7 separate regions of the Homo sapiens genome follow, and all the other regions are linked to region 6. The links come from fine-mapping of genetic effects on gene expression. A gene starts in region 6. Each other region holds a variant in brackets. All regions are shown on one strand. Distances are from middle to middle. Region 1 overlaps LOC122539214 (Zinc finger protein LOC122539214). Region 2 has its middle 42 kb from the start of ZNF611. Region 3 holds the start of ZNF331 (zinc finger protein 331). Region 4 overlaps ZNF665 (zinc finger protein 665). Region 5 holds the start of ZNF480 (zinc finger protein 480). Region 6 holds the start of ZNF83 (zinc finger protein 83). Region 7 has its middle 22 kb from the start of ZNF611.

Region 1 (4,067 bases), 34 kb before region 6:
AAATTTTATTTATTTCTTTCTGATTTGGATGAGTTTGATTTCTTTTGCTATTTCATTGCTCTGGCTAGGACAGTCAGTATTGATTGAATAGAAAGGGTGAGAACGTTCTAGCATCATGTGAGATCCTACAGGAAAAGCATTCAATTTTTCCTGATTGGTTATTTCAGCTGTGGTCATTTCATGGATGGTCTTTTATATTGTTGAGGTAAATTTCCTTCTTTATTTTGTTTAGGGTTTCTATGATGACAGGATGGTCCTAAGTCTTCACACATCAGGGCCACAGCCCCAACCTCACAGGAAACAGGTGATCTTTTGAAAGGCTTAAGGCCCAAGAGTTCATTTGAGGGCTTTTTAACCTGTGGATTTGGTCTAGAGCCATATCAGAGGGTTGTGTCTGTGTGAGTGTGCAAATGTGTGGTGCTTTCCAAGTTCAGTTGACATTGGTAATTTTTTTTTTTTTTTTTTTTTTTGAGATGGAGTCTCACTCTGTTACCCAGGCTGCAGGGCAGTGGCATGATCTCGACTCACTGCGGCCTCCACCTCTCAGCTTCAACCAATTCTCCTGCCTCAGCCTCCCTAGTAGCTGGGATTACAGGCACACACCACCAGGCCCGGTTAATTTTTTGTATTTTTAGTAGAGATAGGGTTGCACCATGTTGACCAGGCTGGTCTCGAACTTTTGACCTGAGGTGATTGGCCCACCTCAGCCTCCCAAAGAGCCACTGCTCCTGGCCTAATAATTTTTTATTTATTTATTTTTTTGAGTTGGAGTCTCACTCTGTCACCCAGGCTAGAGTGCAGTTGCATGATCTCTGTCTCCAGAAAAAACAAAAAACAAAAAGATAATATTTGCATCGTTATTGGCTCATTTTTGATTACTTGGGAAAACAGCTTTCAAAAGCTTAAGGTTTTTAAATACATGTGACTTTCTATATTTTTTTTCTGATGTTCTGTTTATAGCATTTTGTGTGTGTGTGTGTGTGTGATGGAGTTACACTCTTCTTGTGTACCCTGGAGTGTAGTGGTGCGATCTCAGCTCACTGCAACCTCTGCCTTCTTGGCTCAAATGATTCTCCTGCCACAGCCTCCTGAATATCTGAGATTACAGGCATGCGCCATCACCCTCGGCTAATTTTGTATTTTTTTAGAGACAGGGTTATACCATGTTGGTCAGGCTGGTCTCGAACTCTTGACCTCAGGGGATCCACCCATCTTGGCTCCCAAAGTGCTGGGATTCAAGCATGAGCCACTGTGCCCAGCCATTTGTTTAGTTTTTTGAGATGGAGTCCAGCTCTTTCGCACAGTCTGGAATGCAGTGGTGCAATCTCCACTCACTGCAACCTCTGCTCCCTGGGTTTAAGTGATTCTCATGCCTCAGTCTCCTGAGTAGCTGGGATTACAGGCTCACATCCAGTTTTTTTTGTATTTTTGGTAGAGACAGGGCTTATAGGTTTGAGCCACCACACCTGGCCATCCCCATTTTTATATGTACAATTTAATCATTGACTACAGTCATTCTGTTGTGTTATGAAATAATAGGTCTTATTCTATTTTTTGTACCCATTATCATGTTCTATTTATTAATTATTTCTGATTAAAATAAACTTTTTTGCCATGCACGGTGGCTCATGTCTGTAATCCCAGCACTTTGGAAGGTCAGGATTTGGAGACCAGCCTGGCCAACACGGTGAAACCCCGTCTCTACTAAAAATACAAAAATTAACCCAGCATGATGGCGAGCACCAATAATCCCAGCTACCTGGGAGGCTGAGGCAAGAGAATCATTTGAACCCAGGAGGCAGATGTTGCAGTGAGCC[G/A]AGACCGTGCCATTGCACCCCAGCCTAGGCAACAAGAACCAAACTCAATCTCAAAAATAAATAAGTAACTTAATTAATTTTTAAAACATAAAGATGAGGTGCTATGTTGCCTAGGCTGGACTCCAACTGTTGGGCACTAGCCATCCTCCTGCCTCAGCCTCCCATCATGCTCGGATTACAGGCACAAGCCACCATGCCTGACGACATTATGCTTTTTTAAACTTGCTAATATTCTAGATATGCTAATTTCCCTTCTAAATGTAATCATATTTTAGCTAATTACTAGTGTTTGATAGATGAATTCTTCCATAGCTAGGGATGTGGGAGAAAAACATAGTTCATAGTACATGTTAACTTACAGATATAGTCATAAAAGTATTACATGCAGAAATGAGGTGATTTATAATTTCATTTTATTTTTATTTTTATTTTTTTGAGACAGAATCTCACTCTTTTGCTCAGGCTGGAGAGCTGTGGTGAGATCTTTGCTCACTGCAACCTCTGCCTCCTGGATTCAAGAGATTCTCCTGCCTCAATCTCCTGAGTAGCTGAGATTACAGTTTTGTGCCACCTTACCCAGCTAATTGTTGTATTTTTAGTACAGATGGGGTTTCACCATGTTAGCCAGGCTAGTCTCAATCTCCTGACCTCTGGGTCATCCACCTGCCTCGACCTCCCAAAGTGCTGGGATTACAGGTGTGAGTCAATGTGCCCAGCCAATTTTATAACTTAGTTATATTTTTTCAGGGCCCAAGTAAAACGGAATAACTTGACTGCAATGTATTCTTAGTAATATTTCATGATCTTTCTCTATATGAAAATAAATCCTAACATTTAAAGACTGCATATTTTATAGCCTTTGTTATTCCCACCTGATAGAACACTCAGGAGAGAATAACAAAGAAAACACCTAAAATAGATTGCAATTGGATGGGTGTGGTGGCTTGCCTGTAACCCCAACACTTTGGGAAGCAAAGGTGGGTTGATCGCTTGAGTCCAGGAGTTGAAGGCTAGCCTGAGCATCATAGTGGGACCACCCCTCTACAAAGTACTAACAAATTAGCCAGGCTTGGTGGTGAGGGCCTGCAGCTCCAGCTAGTTGGGAGGTGTGGCGGGAGGATTGCTTGAGCACCAGAGGTTGAGGGTGCAAGGAGCAGTGTTCCTGCCACTGCATTCCAGCCGGGGTGACAGAACTAGGTCCTGTCTGAAGGAAAAAAAAAAAGTACAACTTGAAGATAAAAGGTACATTTTCTAATTTTTTCAGAAGGCACATAGAGTGAATTTAATATTACAATACATTTATAAATTATTGATGTTAGCATATTATGTTGTCAACAACATTTATCGTAAAAGTAGTTATATTGCAGGGAAGAACTGTAAAAAAAAGTATTTGAGAATGAGGTGTAAGCTCTGATTTTTTTATCTTGTCCAAATTCCTATGTAAAGAGTCTAGGGGGTCATGCCTTACAAACCACAAAACATATGGCAAAGAAGAAAGTCAAAATATTTGACCTCAAAACATGTTTCTGTGCCATATTTTGAAATGGTCCTTCAAAGGTATCGTTTGTGAGGGGTTCATGTGCGTCTGCAAAGAATCTCTGTTAACATAGCTAGATCTTTTTCTTCTAGGCCCTACCAATCCTGAAGAGAATAACTAAAAATCTAACACCTTTTAAAGGTCTGAATAAAAAACATTCATCATCTATTTTCTCTGAAGGCAGCCAGCAGAGGACTTCAAAAGAACCTTGGTCTCCAACATCTTTTATCTTAACCTGAACATTTCCTCTCTATTGATCCCAGGTATTTAGACAAACTCAACCAATTCTAATCAGAAAATGTTTAAATTTACCTGTAGCCTGGAAGCTCCCACTTTGAGTTGTCCCACCTTTCTGAACAAAATTAATGCATCTTTTAAATGTATTTGATTGATGTCTAATGCCTCCCTAAAATGTCTAAGAAGAAGCTGTTCCCCATCACCTTGGACATATGTTCTCAGGACCTCCTGAGAGTTGTGTCATGGGCCATGATTATTCATATTTAGTGCAGAATAAATATTTTAAAATATTTTACAGAGTTTGACTCTTTTCCATGACAAATATAACTCATTTTAAGTGTGTTGTAAATAAAGTTTCGGTGCTGCAAAAGAAATAGCACCAAATATAAAATTTTCTTTTTTTCTTCTCAGAAAGGCAATTTACTTATATAGAAGGTTGTGCCCTCACAGAGGGAGCAATGGTGAGTGCGTACCTG
Region 2 (4,057 bases), 54 kb before region 6:
GCAAGCTACTGTCTTAAAATCCGAGCTCTCTGAGTGAACAATTTCTGTCCCTTTTAAGGGCTCACAACACTAAAGATTTCACATTAAAGGGTAGTGATTGATTTGAGCAAGCAGGGGGTATGTGACAGGGGGTGCATGCGCTGGTGGTCAGAGTGAAACAGAACAGAACAGGAGGTTTCACAATGTCCTTCCATACAATGTCTGGGATCTATAGATAACATCAGTTGCTAGGTCAGGGGTGGAATTTTAATTACTAGGTTTAGGCCAGGCAGGCCGAGGCCTGGTTTCAGGTCTGGTTTTAGGTCTGATGCCTGGCATCGGGATGCCTGCCTTTGGTTTCACTTCCTTGTTTTTTTCTTAAAACAGGTACTGAGTATAAAACAATATAAAACAATATGAGAGGGTCTCTCTCTCTTCCCTCATTTCCCCCCTTTGAGAGTCTCACTTTTTATTAGTGGGAATTCTCACTCTTATTTTTGCTGCTTATGTCTTTTTGTGCAACAGATTGATAGTGATTCATATAGTACACTTGTGCTGAAGCATTTTGGTGAACTAAAATAGCGATGAAGCTTTTTATCGTTTGAAGAAGTACAGGTAGCAAACAAGGCAGCAGTAAGCAGGTTTCTATTACTATAATAACTCCTATTATAAGAGTTTTAAATCCTCCTAGTGCTGGGAACTACTTTCTAAACATGGCATCAGGGTTGAATCCATGCTACACTTGTATGGGCACATGTGTCAGTTTTGTCTTTTTTTTTTTTTTTTTTTTTTGAGACGAAGTCTTGCTCTGTCGCCCAGGCTGGAGTACAGTGGGTTGATCTCGGCTCACTGCAAGCTCCGCCTCCCGGGTTCACGCCATTCTTCTGCCTCAGCCTCCGGAGTAGCTGGGACTACAGGCGCCCGCCACCACACCCTGCTAATTTGTTGTATTTTTAGTAGAGACGGGGATTCACCGTGTTAGCCAGGATGGTCTCGATCTCCTGACCTTGTGATCCACCCACCTCGGTCTCCCAAAGTGCTGGGATTACAGGCTTGAGCCACCATGCCCGGCCAGTTTTGTCATATTTTTAACTATGTCTTTAACTACTTGCCTTTGATTATCTATGTGTAGACAGTAAGTAGTAAGGATAAATTTCTTTTTTTTTTTTTTTTTGAGATGGAGTCTTGCTCTGTCGCCCAGGCTGGAGTGCAGTGGCATGATCTCAGCTCACCGCAAGCTCCACCTCCCAGGTTCATGCCATTCTTCTGCCTCAGCCTCCCGAGTAGCTGAGACTGCAGGTGCCCACCACCACGCCTGGCTAATTTTCTGTATTTTTTTTTTATAGTGGGATTACAAGCATAAGCCACCAGGCCTGGCCTATTTTATTATTATTATTATTATTATTTTTTGAGACAGTCCTGCTTTGTCGCCCAGGCTGGAGGGCAGTGGGGTGATCTCGGCTCACTGCAACCTCTGCCTCCCATGTTCAAGTGCTTCTCCTGTATCAGCCCCTAGAGTAGCTGGGACTACAGGAGCTCACCACCACACCCTGTTAATCTTTGTATTTTTAGTAGAGACAAGGTTTCACCACATTGGCCAGGTTGGTCTCCAAACTCCTGAGCTCAAGTGATCCACCCACCTTGTCCTCCCAAAGTCCTGGTGTGAGCCACCTCACCCATCCCCTCTTCACTAATTTTTAATTTACCTAATGAATTCTGATTTTGAACCCATGTATTGCGTTTTTTCATTTAGTTACTCTATTTTTAGCCCAAGAGTTTCTGTGTAGTTCTTCATAGTTTCTGTATGTTGGTTGACCTTTGAATTTTCTGCATGCATTGCTTTTATAGTTTCTTGAAGCTGTCTCTTATTTCAATGCATTTCCAACTTTTTGGTGGATGTGGGTAACGGGGTCTCACTATGTCCCCCAGGCTGGAGGGCAGTGGTGCGATCTTGAGTCACTTCAACCTCTGCTCTCCAGGGTCAAGCAATCCTCCCACCTCAGCCTGGTGAGTAACTGTGGATGTGTCCTCTCTAGGTTTTTGCTTCTCATCTCTGAACTGAAGTTGATTTAAGTGTGTGTGGATGTGGTCTGAAGTGTGCAGGAGAGATTAATGGAGAAGCCCAACATGGTGAAACCCAGTATCTACTAAAAACAGAAAACAATTAGCCAGGCGTGGTCGCACTGGCCTGTAATCGCAGCTACCTGGCTGACTGGGGCAGGAGAACTGCTTGAACCCGGGAG[G/T]TGGAGGTTGCAGTGAGCCGAGATAGTGCCAGTACACTCCAGCCTGGGTGACAGAGCTAGACGCTGTCTGAAAAAATGACAGCAACAACAAACAAACAACTAAAAAAAAAAAGGTTATTCTGTAAATAATTAGGAAGACTAAGCAGCCCCAGAGTTAAGACCTTTTGGCATCATTGTCCCTTCTTATGGAGTGATAAAGTAACCTTCCTTGAAGTGTATCAATCCATCACCAGTCAAGTTGCTGCACCCTAGGCACTGGTCTTGAATGGAAAATGTGATTCTGGTAAAGCTTCTCTGTCTTTTCCTATGTGTGTAAAATCTTAACGTCTCCACCTGAGAACGCTGATCCTATTCATTTGAAGTTGATGTTTCCAGGTGGCTATTTCCAAGCTTTGTGTTCAAACAAACTCTGCACTTAATCATATATTCTAAATTTTATTATTTACCTCTGACATCAGTGTCTGTCGTATTGTAGGAGTCTCACCAGAGAGGGCACCTGTCCCCATGTTGTGAAACTCACACTTGTCAAAAAGACATGGGTTAGGGTTTTTCCCCCTCCCTCGGGATGAAGCTAATTAGCTGACACAGATGGTCACCTCCATTACCAAGTAAAGCCAGGATGAAGTATGTGTGACCCAAGGGGTTGTCAAATCCCCTTCCCTGAGGACTGATTAGTGTTTATCTTGAAAACATGTGCTTAATGGGTTGTATAGAACAGTGACATTTCTTTCTCTCTTTTCAACCTCATAGCTGTTTGCCTCTATTTCCCATCACATTTGAGTCTAAGGTTCTTTATTAAAATGGTTTTTATTTATTTCTCTGTTGTCGTGGAGATAATTACCCATTTGGGGGAAGATTTTCTTTGTTTTCAATTATATTTTCTCAACGTTTAAACAGTAAAGAGCATTCCTTAGGCTATGCAAGGTAGCCCACGCCTGTAGTCCCAGCACTTTAGGAGGCCGAGGCAGGTAGATTACTTGAAGTTCGGAGTTTGAGACCAGCCTGGCCAACATGGTGAAAGCCCGCCTCTATCAAAAATACAAAAATTAGCCGGGCATGGTCGCTCGTGCCTCTAATACCAGTAATACTGTAATACTCCGGAGGCTGAGGCAGGAGAATCGCTTCAACCCAGGAGGCAGAGGTCGCAGTGAGCAGAGATCACGCCCCTTCACGCCAGCCTGGGCGACAGAGGGAGACTCCCTCAAAGAAAAAGAAAAGAAAAACGTGAAAAAAAAGTAATAGATTTCTTCCACAAATGTGCTGGAACAACTAACTGGATATCCACACGGAACAGAATAATGTTGGATCCCTATGTCACACCATCAAAAATTTTATTTAAAAAGGTTTAAAAAGCGAGAGAGAGAGAGAGAGAGAGAGACGGAGAGAGAGGGAGACAAGGAAGGTGGCCTTGCGGGAGGGGGTGTTACTTTGTCGCCCAGGCTGGCCTGGACCCCAGGGCTCAGCGATCTTCCTGCTCCTACTTCCTGAGTAGCTGGGACCTCAGGCTCCCGCCTTCGCGCCTGCACCCCTGCTGTGTTTAAGCAGCAGGTGGTGACCTCACTCCTCCCTGGCCTGAGCACTCCGTCCCGCACCCCAGGCAGTGGCTTTAGGGAAGTCTCTGAAGCTGAGCACAGGGCGGACCCTCCCTCCCTTGTGAATGGAGAATAGAAAGGGAGAGGAGTTCTGTTCTGTTCTGTGGGCCGTCAGCATGAAATCCTATGTTCCGCCCTGGCAGGGCTTTGCATTTCACATTCTAGTTTGCATCCCCGTTCCAGAAAATTCCAGGGCTTTTGAATCATGCCTCATACTTCCTGGCCGCTGTCGCCTCCCAAACC
Region 3 (4,067 bases), 900 kb before region 6:
CCTGTCCCTCTACAGGAGGAATTCTACTCCTGAGGCCACCGTCCCCTGTCACTCAGGTGGCCTGCATGCACAGCACTTCTGGCTCTGAAAGCGTCACCTCATGGCTGTTTCTGCCTTCTTGCTGGTGAATTTCCAGGCGAGGCTCAGGCGCTCACGTCCCTCCGCGGCCCTTGTTCTCAGGCAGGTACCGCTTGGTTAGGAGGTGAAGGCAGGGGAAGCAGCAGAGACGCTGGAGCTACAAGTTGCACTGTCACACACACCTGCATCACTCAGAAGGCCCGATCATCCATCCCAGCACAGAGACGCTGAAGCTACAGGTTGTGTTGTCACACACACCTGCGTCACCCAGAAGGCCCGATCACCCATCCCAGCACAAGTCTGCACAGCTCAGCCTCACCACAGCTCACTCTGTCCTGAGACACATCTGCGCCCCTCATACCCACTAACGCCCAGCACGGCCATGCTACGGGCCCCACCACCCCACACGGTGCAGAGGTGCATCCGTGGGCCACGGAGACCCGTCCCGACCGCTGCCCCCGCACAACCCCCAGAGCGCACCTCACGGAGCAGAGTCCCAGGGACGCACCGCCGAGGTTCACAGGCACGGGCTGCGTTGACCCAAAGCCTCTGGAGCACCCCCGGTCACCAGTTATGGGGAGAGCCCGGCTGTGTCACCCCACACTCTCCAGCAAGTGCGTCACCGTCAGAAGCCCCGTGCCCGTCTCCCCTCGGAGCCACGCGCACCAATCTCACCTGCGCGGACTGGCGGAGATGCAGCGGCTGCGTCACTGGTGCAAACGCGCACCCAGCACGGCCCCCATCGCCCCCAATGACGCTCGCGTGCACCCGTGTCACAGTTACGGGGACAGGGCCGCCGCGTCAGCCTCGTACTCCCACGCAAGTGCGTCACACACTCGGTCCCGCCACCCCCTGGAGGCCAGCGCGCATGCGCACGCGCACCCAGCGGCCGCAGCGCGCAGACAGCAGCAGAGCCCGACACGCATGTGCACACAGACCCCTACACGTATGTGCACGTACCCAGACCCCGACACGTATGTGAGCGTACACAGACCCCCGATACATAGCGTGCTCAGCTGTTGACGTGCCTGTGCGGGCACACAGACCCTGACGGGCGTGTGCGCACGCACAGATGCCGACACGCATGTGCAGACACAACAGAGCCCGACACACACGTGCGCCTGCACAGATGCTGACACGCGGACACACTGACACGTGTGCGTGCACCCCTCCCATCCCTTTCCCTCCTCCCACTCTCCCAAAGCCGCAGACGCACCCGGTAGTCCCCCAACGCTGGGGCCTCGGGAGAGGGTGAGGCTAGAAGAGGACGCGGGGCCGTCGGGGGAAACCAGAGCCCCAAGCCCCGTGTTCCAGCATGCAGCACGGCGTACTCCTGGATGGTCTCTGGGAAATGTAGTCCGGGACGGTCCCAGGCAGGGGCCTCAGGGCGCGTCCCAGGTCGGTGCCGGAGCGGGCAGCCCCAAGCTAAGCCCTTCCTGGTCCCTGCAGACGCCCCTTCCCGACTGGGAAAGGAG[C/A]TGTGTCACCCCAGCTGGGACCCCGTCTGGCCTCTTGAGTGGGGTGATGCCGGGCGAGCCATGGCTGTCCTCAGAAGGGTATCCTCTCCTAGCCCCTCTGGAGCGTCACCTGGAATTCTCTGCAGGCCGCTAGCACAGGCTGCCGGAGCTGCTATTCGGTGTCCCTTGCTTGCTGCATTGTAAACAATGTACAGGTAGCAGTTATGCCCCGTGAGTCCCGCTCTCATTCCAAGTACTAACGTCACAGGGTCTACAGGATGTTGCAGGTACTTAACCACAGTCTCATTTTGACTCAAAATCCCACTTTTTGGTATTTATGCCAAGGAAGTAGCTATAGTTGTACACAATGTTGAAGTATGTTCACAAAATGCTTTTTTTCTGAAAATCTTTTTCTCTTTTAATTAGATAGACTTTAGATTCATATGTAGTTACAAGAAATAAAATTGAGAGATCTTGTGTACCTTTCACCTGGTTACCTCAGCTGGTGATTGTAGTATATAATACCACAACCAGAAGATTAACATTGATGTAATCCACTGACGTTACCCAGAATTTCCAGAGAATAATTTTTTGTTTGTTTGTTTGTTTGTTTTGAGACGGAGTTTCGCTCTTGTTGCCCAGGCTCAAGTGCAATGGTGCGATCTCGGCTCACTGCAACCTCCGCCTCCTGGGTTCAAGGGGTTCTCCTGCGTCAGCCTCCCCAGTAGCTGGGATGACAGGCATGCGCTACCACGCCCGGCTAATTTTTTTTGTATTTTTAGAAGAGACGGGGTTTCTCTATGTTGGTCAGGCTGGACTCGAACTCCCGACCTCAGGTGATCCGCCTGCCTCGGCCTCACAAAGTGCAGGAATTACAGGCGTGAGCCACCACACCCAGTCGAGAATAATTTTTAAAAATGAAAATCTTGCAGTGGAGGATAAAGGAAAATCAGATTAAACCATGGTCTGTTATACAATGACATAGAGTACATTTCCTAATAATACTGACTCATTAATTAAGAAAACTTCTGAAGAATCAACAAGGGAAAAGGGTAGGTTAAAATGGTACATATAATTTGAGCAGACATGTTTTGGTGAAATTAACACAGGCTCTGTGGTCTGATTTGAGGGTGTTAATCTGAGCTCTGATAGTTATTAACTTCACAGTGTGGTAAAGTTTCCTCACTGGTAAAACCACAAGAAAGATAGTACAATGTATGACTGTTTGAACAGGATCATCCACATGAAACACACAGTCATATATAACAATTAAGATAAGGTAGCTGTTATTACTAAAAAATCAGTAACATATCTCAATCCATTTTCATAAAAGTAACAAGTCTGCTATTTCCTTTTAACTAGGGAGACAGAGACATGATAGTTCCTTAAAAAATCTAGTTTAAAGATTCTTATCAGCTAGGTGCAGTGGCTCACACCTGTAATCCCAGCACTTTGGGAAGCCAAGGTGAGCGGATCACTTGAGGTCAGAAGTTCAAGACCAACCTGGGCAACATGGTGAAACCCTGTCTCTACTGAAAATACAAAAATTAGCCGGGCATGGTGGTGAGATTGTAATCTCAGTTTCTCAGGAGGCTGAGTCAGGAGATTCGCTTGAACCTGGGAGGCAGAGGTTGTAGTGAGCCAAGATTGCGCCACTGCACTCCAGCCTGGGTGACAGAGTAAGACTTCATCTCAAAAAAGAAAAAAAAAAAAAAAGTGAACATTTTAAACTAGTGCTATCTCATTCTATTTCATATACCTTTGAAATGTTACAGTCAATATTCGTTACTTGCACATATAACCTTGGGAATATTTCCAAAGTCCATATTTGTAAGGTATCCAGTGACTATTTTCATATTCATCAATGATTAATTTTTCAAAGCAAGGAAACATGACTGGTATCTCTCTTCTCTCCACATGCACACAGACATAATGTGACCCGTGGTTGGGCTGGATTTCTTTTACAAACTATGATTTGGAGAGTTTTTGCCTCATTTACATGATTAATAGGATTCAATGTTCCAGAAACAAAACACACACATGCTTAGAGGTGGAGGGGAAGACAGTAAACATACATACTAAGTGTTAACAGTAATTATCTTTAGATGGTATAAATATGGGTAATTACGGCCGGACAGTGGCTTACACCTGTAACCCCAGCACTTTGAGAGGCCAAGGCAGGTGGATCACTGGAGGCCAGGAGTTCGAGACCAGCCTTGGCCAACATGGCGAAACCCCATCTCTACTAAAAATACAAAAATTAGCTGAATGTGTGGCAGACACCTGTAATCCCAGCTACTCAGGAGGCTGAGGCAGATCTCTTGAACCCGGGAGGCAGAGGTTGCAGTGAGCCGAGCTTGTACCATTGCACTCCAGCCTGGGCAACAAAAGCAAGACTCTGTCTTAATAAATAAATAGATAAATAAATAAATAAGGGTAATTTTTAGTTTCCTCTTTGTGTGCTTCTTAGGGGAATAATTTTTTTTTTTTTTTTTTTTTGGTTACAGGCTTTCATTAATCCCATTATAAAGTATA
Region 4 (4,067 bases), 540 kb before region 6:
GGGCTGTGCTGGGCTCGGCCCCTCTCAGTGGAGCTCAAGAATGCTGAGGCATTTTGCAAATACATCTCTTACGCCCCCTTAGCAGAGATTTTCATTCAGATAAGTTGCAGCCCAGCTTCAGTGACATTTAAGATTTGTTCTGTTCTGTTATTCTGTATCTACTATTGAGCACCAGGGCACTGCTGATCATTTCTGAAGGCTGAGATCAGCCTATGACTCACAGAGGGGAGAGGGACTGTGCTCAGCATGGGGTTTGGTCAGGGCTGGGTCTGTGCCCCGAACAGAAGCTCATTCCAGCCCAGCTCCCCACTGCTGCAGCCTGTGTGGGGGCTTCTCCAGGAGGGGAGTGGGTTCTAAAGAAAGAGGTCAGAAACTCACTTGTTTTTCCTGTAGGAGTTTCTCATCCCTGCATCTTTTCTGGTGCAGTGGGCAGCAGAGGACCATCTTCCCTGTGTATAAGGTCTTCCCTGTGTATAAGGTTATGGCCCAGGGAGGGGGTGTGTTGATTCTAACCAACAAACAGCGTATTTTTGACATTCAGGATTGAATTCTAAAGTCTCTTTCATGTTACCCAAGGTAGAACCCTGGAAGAAGAGGAAGAGGAAGGCAAAGGAGTCAGGGATGGCTCTTCCTCAGGTGAGATGATATTCTCGGTGGATTGTTCTGTCTCCTTCCTTTCAGAAACCTTGGACCTTGGAGTTGGGAATCTTCTCTGAGTCTGAAGCATCCTGCCTGACAGGTTTGCTCGCACTCACTCGTGCCTTCCCTCAGTCCCTCTCATCTCACTTAGATTCCATCTCTGGTGACCCAGTGACATGAACTTGGGAAGAGGCTGCACGGGGCATGGACCTGGGAAGGGCTCACACCCCGACATGGATGGAGACGGGGTGAGGGTCCCGTGGTGTCAGTGCTGTTGGGCAACAGGGATTGTTCAGGACATATTTGAATATATTGACAGCTCTGTGTAAACTGTGATAAGAGAAGCTGGTTATGAAGTCAGATGTTAGTGTGTACAAGCACCCACGAAATGCTGTAAAATGAGACGACTGTGGGGAAAGCTTTGTCACCTCATTTATATTTGCATTTGATGCCGAACAAGTGAGTCACTGTGTTTCTGACTCCAAACTCCTTTTTTTTGTTGTTTTTGTTGAGACAGAGTCTCGCTCTGTCGCCTAGGCTGGAGTGCAGTGACGCGATCTCAGCTCACTGCAACCTCCGCCTCCTGGGCTCAAGTGATTCTCTGGCCATGGCCCCCTGCGTAGCTGGGACTACAGGCATGCATCACCATGCCCGGCTATTTTTTTTTGTATTTTTAATAGAGATGGTGTTTCACCGTGTTGCCCAGGCCGGTCTCCAATTCGTGAGCTCAAGCGATCCACCCGCCTCGGCCTCCCAAAGTGCTGGGATTACAGGCGTGAACTACCGCGCCCGGCCTTCATTACTTATATTCAACCAAGAGAGAAACTTATCCCTCAGGCAGCGCCCTGAAAAGACAGAATATTGGATGAATGTTTTCATACTTTTCCTCTCCCAGGAGAAATGGGAAATTGGTGTTTTTCTTGCAGTGACACTGCATCATGCCAGGGTAAGGCCTCTGGGAGCAGATGTCCTGTATTTTCCTACTAGACTTCTGTTAAGAGTTCCAACCTCTTAAATGACCACTGGGTTTCTCACAAAGCAATTGGTTCATATATTGCTACTACATTTGTGTCTCCGTGGTGGAGGTAGTGTTTGGGAGTTCTAGTCCTCTATTTTATTGACATCATCACTTTAGTACAGTCTTATAATTTCTTTAAATAGGTCTGGAAACGTATTTTAATAGGTAGCATTGTATAATTCCTAATGTACTCGTGAGATGCATTGTGTGTTTGTGTCTAATGAGAGCTGCTAAAGAAAGAATGAAGATTGTTTTCACAGTATTGTTATTAGTTCTTAAACTTCAATGCATTCTTCTCCTGGGTTGTGAGTATGTCATCTGTTAGTTTTAACAGATCCAGCTCCTACTTTACCTTTTTCTTGGTCTCAGCTCAGGCATGCTCTGAAGTGGGCTTTAGCTG[G/A]AGCCTTGGTGAGCCCCCATTTTCTCCTTTTTTTTTTTTTCTGATACAAGGTCCGGCCCTGTCGCCCAGTCTGGAGTGCAGTGGTGCAATCTCGGCTCACTGCAACCTCCACCTCCTGGGCTCAAGCCAGCCTCCCATCTCAGCCTCTCAAGTAGCTGGGACTACACGTGCATGCCACCACACCCAGCTAATTTTTATATTTTTTGTAAAGATGGGGGTCTCACTATTTTGCCAAGGATCGTCTCGAATTCCTGAGCTCAAGCAATCCACCCGCCTTGGCCTCCCAAGGTGTTAGGATTACAGGCATGAGCCATCATGCCCAGCCCATTTTCTCCATTTTAATTTAGATCAAATGCATCCAGCATTTACTGCTTGATTATGATGTTTGGTGAAATTTTCTTGTTTAATATTAGCTTTTGGGTGTTTTTCAAATTTCCTTTTTGGACTGATTTTTAATTATCCAATAATTTCTTTGAGTAAGTATTGTTGCAATATGTACTTCTGAAATCTATTCATGTATGATATTAAAAAATGTCCTAATCTTAGGATTTCATGAGTAAAATAAACTAAAACCTCCATTGGGCTTTTGTTAATGCCTAAATATCTAAATTTAACTGGAAAAAAATGGTATCTGTACTTTTAATATTTGTATTTAATACCAATTGGAGTACAAGTTCTTACATATTTTTGTTTTAGCGTTTTTACAGCTTAATTTACAAAAATGTTTGTAAACTAAATCAAGTACAATTCATGCATTTCAGTTGTCCCAGACTTTCTGAAAAGCACATGAGCAAAAAAGACAACTAAAGATGTCATAAAAAAAAATACATCATTGAGACACATCTCCTTATTTCACTTAATTTAACTGGTATATGTGATGTGCACACATGAATATGTAGATGCATACACCCATGGTTTTATAAAAGACATACCATCATTTAAATAAATTGTATGTGTTTTATCATTTGAAATCATATTTTAAATATTTTCTGTGGCCTTAAATTTGTTCTCCACTGTCTTTTTTTTTTTTGAGATGGAGTTTCACTCTTTTGCCCAGGCTGGAGTGAAGGGGCGCAATCTCGGCTCACTGCAACCTCTGCTTCCTAGGTTCAAGCAATTCTCCTGCCTCAGCCTCCCGAGTAGCTGGGATTACAGGTGTCTGCCATCACACCTGGCTAATTTTTGTATTTTTAGTAGAGACGGGGTTTTACCATGTTAGCCAGGCTGGTCTCGAACTCCTGACCTCAGGTGATCCATCTAACTCGGCCTCCCAAAGTGCTGAGATTACAGGTGTGAGCCACCACACCCAGCCTGTTCTCTATTATCTATTAATGAACTAATAGGATAGTAATATATGGACATAAATGCGTTTGTGTATATAATGACCTTTGGTGAAATTCCATATTGTTAGCCTTGAACTTGTTTCAGTTTTTCTCAGTTAGGTGACCTCATGTTAATTTACTTTTGGTGCTGTTTAGGAAAAACAACTCAAAAACCATGTTTTCCTCTGCTCTCACACCAACACCACAATCCACACAGAAGACTTCTGTGGCCAAATGCGAGGGGTTTCTCCCCACCAACAAACAGCAAGCAACCAACTGGCTGTCCTCCAGTTCAGTTCCAACACTGTCTGCATGAAGATAGTGTCAGATCTCACAGATTGATGGCTCAGTTCCCAGTTGCATGTCCAGGCCTCTGAAACTTCTGACCGACCAACTTCAAGTTGAAGTTCCCATGAACCCTTCTTTGGGTTGGATTTATTTGCTGGAGCAACTCTTAGAGGTCAGAGAAACACTCAGTTTTACTGGTTGATTATAAATACTATTACAGAAGATACCAGTGAAGAGATGCATAAGGTGAGGTATGGGGAAAGGGGCGCAGAGCTTCCCTGCCCTCCCTGGGTATGCCGTCCTCCAGGAACCTCCACATGTCAGCCCTCTGGAAGCTCCCTGAACCCACTGCACTCCAGCCTGGGTGACAAAGCAAAACTCCATCTCAAAAAAAAAAACA
Region 5 (4,067 bases), 340 kb after region 6:
ATGTGGGTCAAACCCTGTTCGCAGCTCTCAGCTCTGAAGGCTGTTGGCCCCTGATCCCACTTTACACTCTATTCTTGTGTCTGTGTCTTTAATTCCTCTAGTGCCACTAGGTTAGGGTCCCCACGACCAAGCTGGTCTCGGCACTGAGGGAAGGCATAGGTAAGCGTGAGCAAACCTGTCAGGCAGGACACTTCAGACTCAGAGAAGACTCCCAACTCGAAGGCCCAGCGTTTCTGAAAGAAAGGAGACAGAACAATCCACCGAGAATATCATCTCACCTGAGGAAGAGCCATCCCTGACTCCTTTGCTTTCCTCTTCCTTCTCTTCTGGGCTTTTTCATCACACAGCATGACTCTTTAGAAGTCAATCCTAAATGTCAAAAATATGCTGTTTAGGGCTTAGAATCAACACACCCTTTTCCTGTGCCACAATCACACACACAGGTTAGACCTCACCCTGCGGAAAGATGTCCTCTGCTGCCCACTGCACCAGAGTTGATGCAGAGACAAGAAACTCCTACAGGAAGAACAACAAGTGAGTTTTTTACTCGTCTTCAGAACCTGCTCCCCTCCTAGAGATGCCCACACGCACGCTGCAGCAGTGGGGAGCTGGCCTGGTCTAAGCTCCCCTTCAGGGCCAGACCCAGCCCTGACCAAACCCCATGCAGAGCACAGCCCCTCCTCTCCTCTCTATGGATCCCAGGCTCATGTAATCCCTCAGAAATGGAGGACACAGAGCCTTGGTGCTCAGCACCAGAGACAGAACACACTGGAATCCCCGTATCCATGGGGAAGATGTCCCAAGACCCCCATTGGATGCCTGGAACTTCAAACAGTACTGAACTCCATTTATTCCACCCTGGCCAACATTGTGAAACCTCGTCTCTACTAAAAATACAAAAATTAGCTGGGCGTGGTGGCACACACCTATAATCCCAGCTACTTGGGAGGCTGAGGCAGGAGAAATGCTTGAAACTGGGAGATGGATGTTGCAGTGAGCTGAGATCATGCCATTGCACTCCAGCCTGGGCAACAAGAGTGAAACTCTGTCTCAAAACAAAACAAAAGAAAAAAAAAATCAGGGTATCCCAAAGCCCCTTCTTTTGATTAATTTGCTAGGAGGGTTCTTCCATCGGGCTAGTCATCTGTATCTTTTGCAATATTCTTCATAGCAAATGGGTAAAACTAAGCAAAATGCTTCCTTGAGTTCTGTGAATGAGGCTAACAAATTAATAAAATCTGAGCAAAGGGTCAAGGGAATCTTCAATTTTTAGATGTTTGGTTGAAGTTCAGGTCCCAACCAGGAACTTACAACCAGCACGTGAAGTAGCGGCAGCCTTGTGGAACTGAGCCCCCAACCTGTGGGATCTGATGCTAACTTCAAGTAGACAGTGTCAACTTGACTGAAATTACGGATCACCCAGGCGGTGTCTGACGAATTGCTTGTTGGTGGGAAGAAATCCCCACACATTTTGTTCATCAGATATGAAGCATTCTGTGTTGAGTGTTCACTATTGTGTTGACTGCAAGAGTAGGAAAAACACTTTGGTTTTCCTGCTATCTTTTACACTCGCCCACACCCTACCCCATCCCAGGAAAAGGAAAGTGGGTGACCCACACCTGAATGACTCAAGTCACTGACCTGTGCCTGAATAGGGAATGTGAGTGGAAGCTAAAGTCTGATGCCAAGAATTATAAAATGCACCAGCCTTACAGACAGGAGTTTTGCATATCCATTTTCATCTGTATTTTTAAAGTATATTTCATATTATCAAATTATAAATAGATAAATCAATGTCACAACTTAATCATAATATCCAATCAACTCACCGTTCATCTGCACCCAGGGTTCCCTCTTTTCTGGGTACTGTGTTTCCCTCCCTCATTCTGTACGTATCTCTCATTCTCACCTTCTTTCTCTAGCTTTTTTCCCCCTTTATTTTTCCCCTAAGATTCTGCTCATTTTGAGCCCCTCTCTTCTCCTGATGTTTCTCCCCTTCTTCCTTCTATTCCTTCTCTTCCACCTGTTCTGCTCCATTCTGGCAACTTGTTTCACCCCTCTTCCAAACT[T/C]TCTGCTCAATCTTTGATCATCCCATTCTCCACCTATTTGTCTCTTTTTTTTTTTTTTCCCTGAGACGGAGTTTTGCTCTTGTCGCCCAGCCTGGAGTGCAATGGCGCAATCTCAGCTCACTGCAACCTCCGCCTCCCGGGTTCAAGCAATTCTCCTGCCTCAGCCTCCTGAGTAGCTGGGATTACACGCGCGCGCTGACGCCCGGCTAATTTTTGCATTTTTAGTAGAGATGGGGTTTCACCATGTTGCCCACGCTGGTCTCAAACTCCTGACCTCACGTGATCCACCCACCTTGGCCTCCCAAAGTGCTGGGATTACAGGCGTGAGCCACTGTGCCCGGTCTTGCCTCTTCCCCTGACTCTACTCCCCCTCTGCTCTCTCTGTTAAATCCCTTCTTTTCTGTTACACCCCCTTGTCCCCACTCTCTGGCACCCTGAGATCCCAGGCCTCCACCTGCTGTGGTTCTCCCTCTGCTCTCGTTGTCACCAGCTGACTCCTCTTGCTGTCCCAGCACCACGCTGCTCTGTCTGCCCTGGCTCCAAATCCCTCCCCCTCTCCCCCACTCTCAAACTGAGGAACTTCCCACTTTGCTGCCCCTCTCACTATCTTGCTGTCCTTCATCTCTCCGGAGATGGAACTTTTCTCTGCATTTCTCCAGTTGCTTTTTTCCCCCTGCTACTTTCTCGGCTTCATTCGCTGTCTCTGCAAATCCTCCATCCACTCTCTACTTTGCCATCTGCTTACGGCTCTCCCTCAATCTTCTTTTCTCCTTCAAAATTTTTCTCTTTCTTCTCCCTCGCTCTCCGTCTCTCTTTCTGCACACATTCACATGGAAGGAATTGGGATCCGATGTCCACAAGCAGAACACCTTTTCAGTGGGGTGTTATTTGGCCCGCAAGAACACTGGATGTCAAGAGACAGAGTAAGTCACCTCCCCACACGCAGGGTTAGGAGAAGCGGTGTCTGGGAAGAGGAGGCCTGGGGAGTAGCGGGGCCCCGTATCAAGGAGGGTAAAGGTAGGGTCTGGATCAAGAGATGGGTGGCGTCTGCAGAATCCCAGCACTGGGCAGAAGACGCGGCTTCTCCTGGATTGAGATTGGAGCGCTGTGCTCCAGGGCCAACAAAGGCGAGGCTTGGGGGACCGCATAGACCGGAATCCGCCTAGCGGGGGAGGACTTTACGCTGTGCGGGGCGGATGTAAGCATCACTGAAGGACTTGAAACAGGAAAACTCCGCGACAGGAGGTGACTACATGGCCCTGTGGCAGAAGGACGGGGGACAGGACCCGCCGCCGAGCGATTTAAACACACAGGGAAGCGACCGCCTGACTCTCACGGAGACGCCTGAATTTGGTCGGGGTAGAGGGAGCGGTGCGAGGATTTCAAGGTCTGTGTGGCCCCTCAGATCCCGGGTACAGAAGCGCGGGGGAGTTGGGAAGCGCAGATTAATTTACACAAAGGGAAACTCACGCGCCGCGGCGTGACCTTCACTCCACGCGATCCGCTTCCGGGTTTGTGGGAAACTGCGCGCGCAGCGGAGGGGTCCGAGCGGGGCGGGGGCGGGGGCGGGGGCGGGGGCGGGGGCGGGGGCGGGGGCGGGGGCGGGGGCGGGGGCGGGGGCGGGGGCGGGGGCGGGGGCGGGGCGGAGTGGGGCTTGCGCTTCCCTCCGCCTCGCTTCCAGTGCCTCTGTTTTCCGGGTTTTGCCGGGGAGACCTGTCAAGGAGACTGGAGCAACTCAGCTGTCTCGGAACTGTACTCTTGCCGGGACTGAGCAAAGTCGGCTAATGATTAGATCCAGGAAAATTCCTGCTATTAAAGTTAATCTTAAGCCGACCGTGCGGTCGGGCACCTGTAGTCCCGGCTACCCCGAAGACTGAGGCGGGAGGATCGCTTGAGCCCAGGAGTTCGAGTTTACACTGAGTTATGACGGCCACTGCACTCCAGCTTGGGCGACAGAGACTCAGTCTCTCAAATAAATACATAAAAAACTAAATTTAG
Region 6 (4,067 bases):
CAATACTGCCTCTCAAAGAAAAACAAAAAAGAGTTTTCCTGTTAATAATTAGGAAGACTAAGCAGCCCCAGAGATAAGACCTCATGGGATCATTGTTACTTCTTATGGAGTGATAAAGTGACCTTCCTCGAATTGTATCAATCCATAACCAATCAAGTTGCTGCAACCTATGCACTGGGCTTGAATGAAAGCTGTCATGATTCTGCTAAAGATTCTCTGTCTTTCCCTGTGTGTGAAACCTTAACGTCTCTACTTTGGAACGCCGATCTCATTTATTTGGAGTTGGTGTTTCCAGGTGGCTTTCTTCAAGCTTTGTGTTCACATAAACTCAGTACTTAATCTTACATTCTAAATTTTATTATTTACTGCTGACGTCAGTTTCTGTCGGATTGTAGGCGCCTGACCAGAGAGGGCACGCGTCGCTATGTTGTAAAACTCACACTCGTCAAAAAGACATGGGTTAGGGTTTTCCCCCTCCCTCTGGATGAAGCTAATTAGCTGACACAGATGGTCACCTCCATTACCAAATAGAGCCAGGATGAACTATGTGTGACCAAGAGTGTTGTCAAGTCCTCTTCCCTGAGGACTGATTAGTGTTTATCTTGAAAACATGTACTCAATGGGTTGTATAGAACAGTGAAGTTTCCTTGTCTCTTTTCAACCTCTTAGCTGTTTGCCTCAATTTCCCATCACATTCTGGTTTAAGGCTTACTTATTAATAATGTGGTTTTTATTTCTTTCACTATTATCATCGTGAAGATGATTTCTCATTGGGGGGAAGATTTTTTTTGTTTTCCATTATATTTTCTCAAAATTTAAAGAGTAAAGAAATGAATATTTTTTGGGCCAGGAAGTGTGGCTTATGACTATAATCCCAGCACTTTCAGAGGCTGAGGCAGTCAGATCACTTGAAGTCAGAAGTTCGAGACCAGCCTAGCCAATATAGTGAAACCTCGTTTGTATCGAAAATACAAAAATTAGCCGGGCATGGTTGTGCGCGTCTGTAATGTCAACTACTCCGGAGGCTGAGACAGGAAAATCGGTTCAACCCAGGAGGCAGAGGCTGCAGTGAGCCCAGATCTCGCCACCGCATTCCAGCCTGGCCAAAAAAGAAAACTCTGCCTCAAAAAAAAAAAAAAAAAAAAATAGAAAAAACTAAATATATAAAAGAAAATAAGCCGGGCGCGGTGGCTCACACCTGTAATCCCAGCACTTTGGGAGGCCGAGGCGGGCGGATTACTTGAGGTCGGAAATTTGAGACCAACCTGACCAACATGGAGAAATCCCATCTCTACTAAAAATACAAAATTAGCAGGGCATGGTGGCACATCCCTGTGATCCCAGCTACTTGGGAGATAGAGGCATGAGAATCGATTGAACCTGGGAGACAGAGATCGCGCCATTGCACTCCAGCCTGGTCAACTAGAGCAAAACTCCATCTCAAGAAACAAAAAAAGAAACTGATAGATCTCTTACACAAATACGCTGGGACAACTAACTGGATATCCACGTGGAAAAGAATAATGTTGGATCCCTATGTAACATCATCAAAAATTTTATTATAAAAAAGAAAAGAGAGAGAGAGACGAGGAAGGGAGCCCTGCGGGAGGGGGTGTTACTTTGTCGCCCAGGCTGGCCTGAACTCCCAGGCTCGGCGATCCTCCCGCCGCTGCTTCCTGAATAGCTGGGACCTCAGGCTCCCACTCCCGCGCCCATATCCCAGCTGTGTTTAAGCCGCAGGTGGTGACCTCACCCATCCTTGGCCTGAGCACTCCATCCTGCATCTCAGGCAGTGGCCTGAGTCTCTAAAGCTGAGCACAGCGTGGACTCTCTCCCAAGTGAATGGAGAATAGAAAGGGAGAGGATTTCTATTCGGTTCTGTGGGCTATCAGCATGAAATTGTACCTTCCGCCCAGGCAGGGCTTTGCATTTCACATTCTAGTTTGCATCCCCGTTCCAGATAATTCCAGGGCTTTTGAATCATGCCTCAGCCTTCCTGGCCGGTCTCGCCTCCAAAACCCGAAAAATGCCTCTGCGCTGGGAACGATGCTGAGAGACTCACAGGTCCCGCCCTGGCCCCGCCCACTGCTGGTTCTAAAGGGGAAAGTCTCTCGGCTTCCCACCCCGCCCCTACCTCATCCAGGCCCCGCCCACCTCGCGGGCCCCGCCCAGACCTGGCTTCTGTACTGCGCGCGCACATGCGCGCAAACCCGGAAGCGGATTATGTGGAGTGAAAGTTACACCGTGGCGGTGAGTTTCGCTCTTCTATTAAGTCTGCGCTTACCAGGTCCCCGGCGCTGCTGTACCTGAGACGTGGGGTCCCCACAGACCTGGAAATTCTCTCCCTTCTTCCTTCACCCAGGACAAATTGAGACGTCCCCATGAGAGTCCGGATATCGCTTCCTTTTGGGTTTAAAGTCGCCCTGAGGCTGGGCTGTCCCCGGTCTTTCTGCTGTAGGGCGATGTATACACTTCCTGTCGCGTAGTTTTCCTGCTCAAAACTGTTTTCTGACTCCTCCCGCCCCTCGCTTTTTAAAGTCCTCACCCGAGAGCTGGATTCCCGCCCTGGGCGCCTCCCACCCTCGCCTTCGTAGGCCACTGGAGCGCAGCGCCAGGGCCCCAGTCCCAGGGAGGCCGCGTACTTTGCCTGGTCCTGGAATCCTGCAGACCCCAACCTTGTCTTAAGGCGCCGTCTCCCCCCCACCTCCCTCCTCGTGGCGGGCCCTGCTGCTCCACAGGTCTCTCCTCCACAGTCACCTCTTCCCCTGAACCCGCGTTGGGGAGGTACCCGGGGCCTGTCCTGTGACACGGGGTGTTCTTGCCTGCCCAGCTCCAGCCCCCGGAAAACGAGCTCCTCCGGGATGCAGGCGTCTTATCCAAACCCTCCTGTGATTGTGTCGGCCAAAGGCATTGGGAGACAGAGCAGTAGAAAAGCTGAGACAGAGAAAAGAATGAGAAAGACCCATAACAGAGGGCAAAGTAGAGGGTGGGTGATGGATTTGTCAAGAGACAGCAAAAGTGAAAAGAAAAAAAAAGAAAGCAGGAGGAGAAAAGTAACTGGAGAAACGTAGAGAAACCTAGATGTACAGAGAGATGAAGGACAGCAAGGTAGGGAGAGGGGCAGCAAAGAGGGAATCTCATCAGAGTGAGGGAGAGGAGGAGGGATTTGGAGCCAGGGCAGACAGAGCAGAGTGGTGCTGGTGGCAAGGAGAACAGAGGGAGAACCACAGCAGGGAGGACACCTGGGGATCTGTGGTTCCACATATTGGGGACAGGGGGTATAACAGGGAAGACGGAATTTAACAGGGAGAGCAGAGGATGCACAGAGATGGGAGAAGAGGCGGAAATATATCAAGATTGAGGACGATAGAACGATTGGGGAGAAGGAACAGCAAGAAGTTAGGTAAGTTGCGAGGATGGAGCAGAAGAGGTGGAAGAGAAGGAATAGAGGGAAGAAGGGGATAAACAGCAGGAGAGGAGAGGGGTACAAAATGAGGAGCAGAATGCCAGGTAAAAAGAAAAGAAAACAAGAGCTAGAGAGAGAAGGGGAGAATGAGAGATATGTACACAATTAGGGAGGGAAGCACAGTAATGAAGAAAGATGGGCTGGGCGCAGTGGCTTACGCCTGTAATCCCAGCACTTTAGGAGACTGAGGCAAGAAGATTGCTTGAGTACAGGAGTTCGAGTCTAGCTTGGGCAACATAGTGAGACCCCCATCTCTACCAAAAAAAAAAAAAAACAACCGGGCATGATAGTGTGCACCTGTAATCCCAGCTACTCTGAAGGCCGAGGCAGAAGGATCACTTGAACCCAGGAGGTCCAGGCTGCAGTGAGCCGAGATCATGTCACTGCACTCCAGCCTGGTCAACAGAGCAAGACCCTGTCTCAAAAGAAAAAAAGGGGCGGAGGACTTTGGGTTTAGATGAGTGGGTGAGTTCATTGGATACGATTAGTTGTGACATTTGACTTCTTTGTATATAATCTAGTAACTTAAAACTGCTTAAATTATACAGATGAGATTGAGAATTTTAAGAATCCTATCTATAAGACATGTACATTCTATGAA
Region 7 (4,067 bases), 120 kb before region 6:
TCCCAAGTAGCTGGGGTTACAGGTATGTGCCTCCAGGCCCGGTTAATTTTTTTGTATTTTTAGTAGAGGTGGGGTTTCATCATGTTGGCCAGGGTGGCCTCAAACTCCTCACCTCAGGTTATCTGCCCACCTCAGCCTCCCAGAGTGCTGGGATTACAGGCACAAGCCACTGTGCTCAGCCCCACCAATTATTATTAAATAGATATTTTGATATTTAAACATCACGTGATGGATATATTTGTTTTCTAGTAAAACCCCGAGCAAAGCTGCAGCTTAGACCCTTTGCCATAAAGTATCTCCTTTCCCTGTCACGTCCTCCACCCTCCTTCCAACCTCACTGGGGAGCCGCTACTGGCAATTCTGTGTTAGGTGTCAAAGCAAGTCTCATACACGTGTATTTCTGCATCATTATGAGACTTTAAAAATAATTCTGTAGTAAATTAAAAAAATAAAACGTTTTATATTTATGTTTTTACTTTAGGATTGGGGCTACATGTGATGGTTTGTTACATAGGCAAACTCATGTCATTGAGGTTTGTTGTACAGATTATTCTATTGCTCCAGTATCAAGCCCAGTACCCAATAGTTTTTTTTTTCTTTTTTCTTTTTTTGACACTAAGTTTTGCACTTGTTTATTCAGGCTCGAGTGTGATGGCATGATCTCGGCTCACTGCAACCTCAGCCTCCTGGGTTCAAGCAAGTCTCCTGCCTCAGCCTCCCGAGTAGCTGGGATTACAAACACATGCCACCACCACACCTGGCTAATTTTTGTATTTTTAGTAGAGGCAGGGTTTCACCATGTTGGCCAGGCTGATGTTGAACTCCTGATGTCAGATGATCGAAGCCTCTCAGCCTCTCAAAGTGCTGGGATTACAGGTGTAAGCCACTGTGCCCAGCCCCCAATAGCTATTTTTTCTAGTCTTCTCCTTCCTCCCACTCTCTACCCTCAAGTAGACCCCAGCGTCTGTTGTTTTCTTCTTTGTGTTTTAGTAAATATTTTACTTTGATATTTGATCCTGCTAGTTGCGAAAATTTACATGTTGTCAAGTTAGTAAACATGGCTAGCTTGCTCTTTGACATCTGCTTTGGAAATTGGCTGAATGACAACATGTGGATCCTTTGAGATTTTTCCTTGTATAAGGAGTGCCATAGTGGCTGCCTCTCCACATGCCTGCATTACTACAGATATCTGAAGCTTCCTCCAGGTCAGTCAGTTGAAAGGGTGATTGCTTCTTCTAGCATGGGGCATTTCCTGTTTTCTTAGATCTGACAAGATTCCCCCCTACCCCCAACTGCCAAAGTGTCATTTTCTAGCAAGATGAGATTCCTCTTCAGTTAAACAAATCTTGTTACTTTTTATATTTTTAAAATCTTTATATATATATATATATATATATATACATATATACACACACACACATACACATGCACATACATATACATGCATATTTACACACACATATGTATATATTTTGAAAATCTGCTGGGCATGGTGGCTCATGCCTGTAATCCTATCACTTTGGGAGGCCGAGGTGGGTGGATCACCTGAGGTCAGGAGTTCACAACAAGCCTGGCCAACATGGTGAAACCCCATCTTTACTAAAAATACAGAAGTTAGCCGGGCATGGTGGTGGGCACCGGTAATCCCAGCTACTCTGGCTGAGGCAGGAGAACCACTTGAACCCAGAAGGCAGAGGTTGCAGTGAGCCAAGATTGCATTACCGCACTGCAGCCTGGGCGACAGAACGAGACCCTGTCTAAAAAAAAAAAAGAAAGAAAAGAAAATCTGGGGAAAATGACAACTTTTTTTGTTAACATCTAGTTTCTTGTGAGTCTGTGTAGGTTTTATTATTTTGCGGACCTATATAAACAAAATGGATTTTCGTACTTTGAGTTATTCTGTTTTCATATATTTGATTTTATTTTGAGAGAAGGTCTCGCTGTGTTGCTTAGGCTGGAGCGCAGTGGCATGATCTTAGCTCACTGCAACCTCCTTCAGGCTCAAGCCATCCCCAAGCCTCAGCCTCCCAAGTAGCTGGGACCACAGGTGCGTACCACCATGGCTGGTTAATTTTTTTTTTTTTGAGATGGAGTCTTGCTCTGTAGCCAAGCTGGAGTGCAGTGGCGTGATCTCGACTCACTGCAACCTCTGCCTCCCAGGTTCAAGCGATTCTCCTACCTCAGGCTCC[C/T]GAGTAGGTGAGACTACAGTTGAGTGCCACAACGCCCGGATAATTTTTTGGTATTTTCAGTAGAGACAGAATTTCACCTTGTTAGCCAGGACTGTCTGGATTTCCTAACCTCGTGATCCGCCCGCCTTTGCCTTTCTAAGTGCTGGGATTCCAGGCTGGTCTTGAACTCCTGTCCTCAGGTGATCTGCCTGCTTCAGCCTCATAGAGTGCTGAGATTACAGGCACGAGCCACCGTGCTCAGCCCCACCAATTATTATTAAATATATATTGTGATATTTAAACATCACATGATGTATGTATTTGTTTTGTGGTAACGCTCCAAGCAAAGCTGCAGCTTAGGCCCTTGTCCATAAAGCATCTCCTTTCCCTGTCACTTCCCTGTCACGTCCTCCACCCTCCTTCCAGCCTCCCTGGGGAGCCACTACTGTCAGTTCTGTGCCAGGTGTCAGAACAAGTCTTGTACACATGTATTTCTGCATCATTATGAGACTTTGGGAAATATTCTGCAGTAAATTTCACTCCCGTCTGTGAGAAGAGACCACCAAACAGGCTTTGTGTGATCAACAAGTCTGTTTATTTCACCTGGGTGCAGGCAGGCTGAGTCCAAAAAGAGAATCAGCGAGAGTGATAGGGGTGGGGCTGTTTTATAGGATTTGGGTACATAAAGGAAAATTACAGTCAAAGGGGGTTGTTCTCTTGAGGGCAGGGCCGGGGGTCACAAAGTGCTCAGTGGGGGAGCTTTTGAGCCAGGCTGAGCCAGGAGAAGGAATTTCACAAAGTAATGTCATCAGTTAAGGCAGGAACAGGCCATTTTCACTCCTTTTGTGATTCTTCAGTTACCTCAGGCCATCTGGATGTGTACCTGCAGGTCACAGGCTATATGATGGCTTAACTTGGGCTCAGAGGCCTGACATTCCTGTCTTCTTATAATAAATAAAAAATAAAACAAAATAGTGTTGAAGTCTTGGGGCGGCGAAAATTTTTGGGGGTGGTATGGAAAGAGAATGGGCGATGTTTCTCAGGGCTGCTTTGAGCAGGATTAGGGGCGGCGTGGGAACCTAGAGTGGGAGAGATTAAGCTGAAGGAAGATTTTGTGGTAAGGGGTGATATTGTGGGGTTGGTAGAAGAAACATTTGTCATATAGAATTATTGGTGATGGCCTGGATATGGTTTTGTATGAATTGAAAAACTAAACAGAATAAGAGAAGGAGAAAAACAGGTATTAAAAGACTAAGAATTGGGAGGACCCAGGACATCCAATTAGAGAGTGCCTAAGGAGGTTCAGCATAGCCTTGCCAGCAAAGATTATTTATTTACTTTAAGAGTTAAGAGTGGTGGTTTGGGGATAGCACCAGGAGATACCAGCTGTGATGGCTTGGAGAAACAGTGTAAACTGGCAGTGTAAAGAAGAGCAGGGCATTTATGAGTAGTTGACAAGGGTGAATAGGAGTATGACTAGATAGAAGATAGGGATGACAAGTTTTTTGGGGCACAGTCCAAGTTGCTCTGGTGTCTGGAATGATACTGGGGCCTAATAAAAAGGAGCATTCACACAGGAGCTCAAATGGGCTGTACCCCGTAGCATTTCAAGGACAGGCCCTAATTCTGAGAAGCGAAAGTGGTAAAAGTATTGTCCAGTCCTTTTTAAGTTGGTGGCTGAGCTTGGTAAGGTGTGTTTTTAAAAGACCATTAGTCCATTCTGCCTTTTCTGAAGATTGAGGACGGTAAAGAGTATGAAGGTTCCTCTGAATACCAAGAGCCTGAGAAACTGCTTGGGTGATTTGCCTAATAAAGGCTGGTCCGTTATCGGACTGTATAGAGGTGGGAAGGCCAAACTTGTTGGGAGCAAGCCCCCCAAAAACAAAATCTCTGTAGCAG

The links.
Region 1: its variant is fine-mapped to the expression of ZNF83 in transverse colon (GTEx, PIP above 0.99).
Region 2: its variant is fine-mapped to the expression of ZNF83 in skeletal muscle (GTEx, PIP above 0.99).
Region 3: its variant is fine-mapped to the expression of ZNF83 in esophagus mucosa (GTEx, PIP 0.92).
Region 4: its variant is fine-mapped to the expression of ZNF83 in stomach (GTEx, PIP above 0.99).
Region 5: its variant is fine-mapped to the expression of ZNF83 in testis (GTEx, PIP 0.96).
Region 7: its variant is fine-mapped to the expression of ZNF83 in ovary (GTEx, PIP above 0.99).

What each region holds. Positions count from the first base shown.
Region 1 is chr19:52,670,419-52,674,485 of GRCh38, reverse strand. All of the region lies in intron 1 of LOC122539214 (Zinc finger protein LOC122539214), which reads left to right. It also overlaps a transcript of ZNF83 not described here. Among named protein-coding and RNA genes, the nearest start is that of ZNF83, 34 kb to the right of the region's middle. RefSeq lists enhancers at 1-476, 3,687-4,067. The variant G/A (reference allele first, on the strand shown) is at 1,818.
Region 2 is chr19:52,690,674-52,694,730 of GRCh38, reverse strand. No RefSeq gene overlaps it. Among named protein-coding and RNA genes, the nearest start is that of ZNF611, 42 kb to the left of the region's middle. RefSeq lists an enhancer at 836-1,371. The variant G/T (reference allele first, on the strand shown) is at 2,223.
Region 3 is chr19:53,534,983-53,539,049 of GRCh38, reverse strand. ZNF331 (zinc finger protein 331) reads right to left here and starts at 905. Exons shown (of 6, transcript NM_001079906.2): 1 at 754-905. RefSeq lists enhancers at 826-875, 661-1,177. The variant C/A (reference allele first, on the strand shown) is at 1,554.
Region 4 is chr19:53,179,453-53,183,519 of GRCh38, reverse strand. ZNF665 (zinc finger protein 665) reads left to right here. Exons shown (of 4, transcript NM_024733.5): 2 at 577-636. The coding sequence starts at 622. Among named protein-coding and RNA genes, the nearest start is that of ZNF665, 12 kb to the left of the region's middle. RefSeq lists an enhancer at 806-1,322. The variant G/A (reference allele first, on the strand shown) is at 2,058.
Region 5 is chr19:52,296,696-52,300,762 of GRCh38, reverse strand. It overlaps ZNF480 (zinc finger protein 480), which reads right to left and starts at 3,594. Exons shown (of 5, transcript NM_144684.4): 1 at 3,540-3,594; 2 at 279-369. The coding sequence starts at 350. RefSeq lists enhancers at 3,363-3,412, 3,483-3,532. The variant T/C (reference allele first, on the strand shown) is at 2,070.
Region 6 is chr19:52,636,495-52,640,561 of GRCh38, reverse strand. It overlaps ZNF83 (zinc finger protein 83), which reads left to right and starts at 2,207. Exons shown (of 3, transcript NM_018300.4): 1 at 2,207-2,250. It also overlaps the pseudogene LOC124904757. RefSeq lists a silencer at 1,960-2,159 and enhancers at 2,370-2,489, 2,243-2,760, 2,761-3,279.
Region 7 is chr19:52,755,500-52,759,566 of GRCh38, reverse strand. No RefSeq gene overlaps it. Among named protein-coding and RNA genes, the nearest start is that of ZNF611, 22 kb to the right of the region's middle. RefSeq lists an enhancer at 2,741-3,456. The variant C/T (reference allele first, on the strand shown) is at 2,190.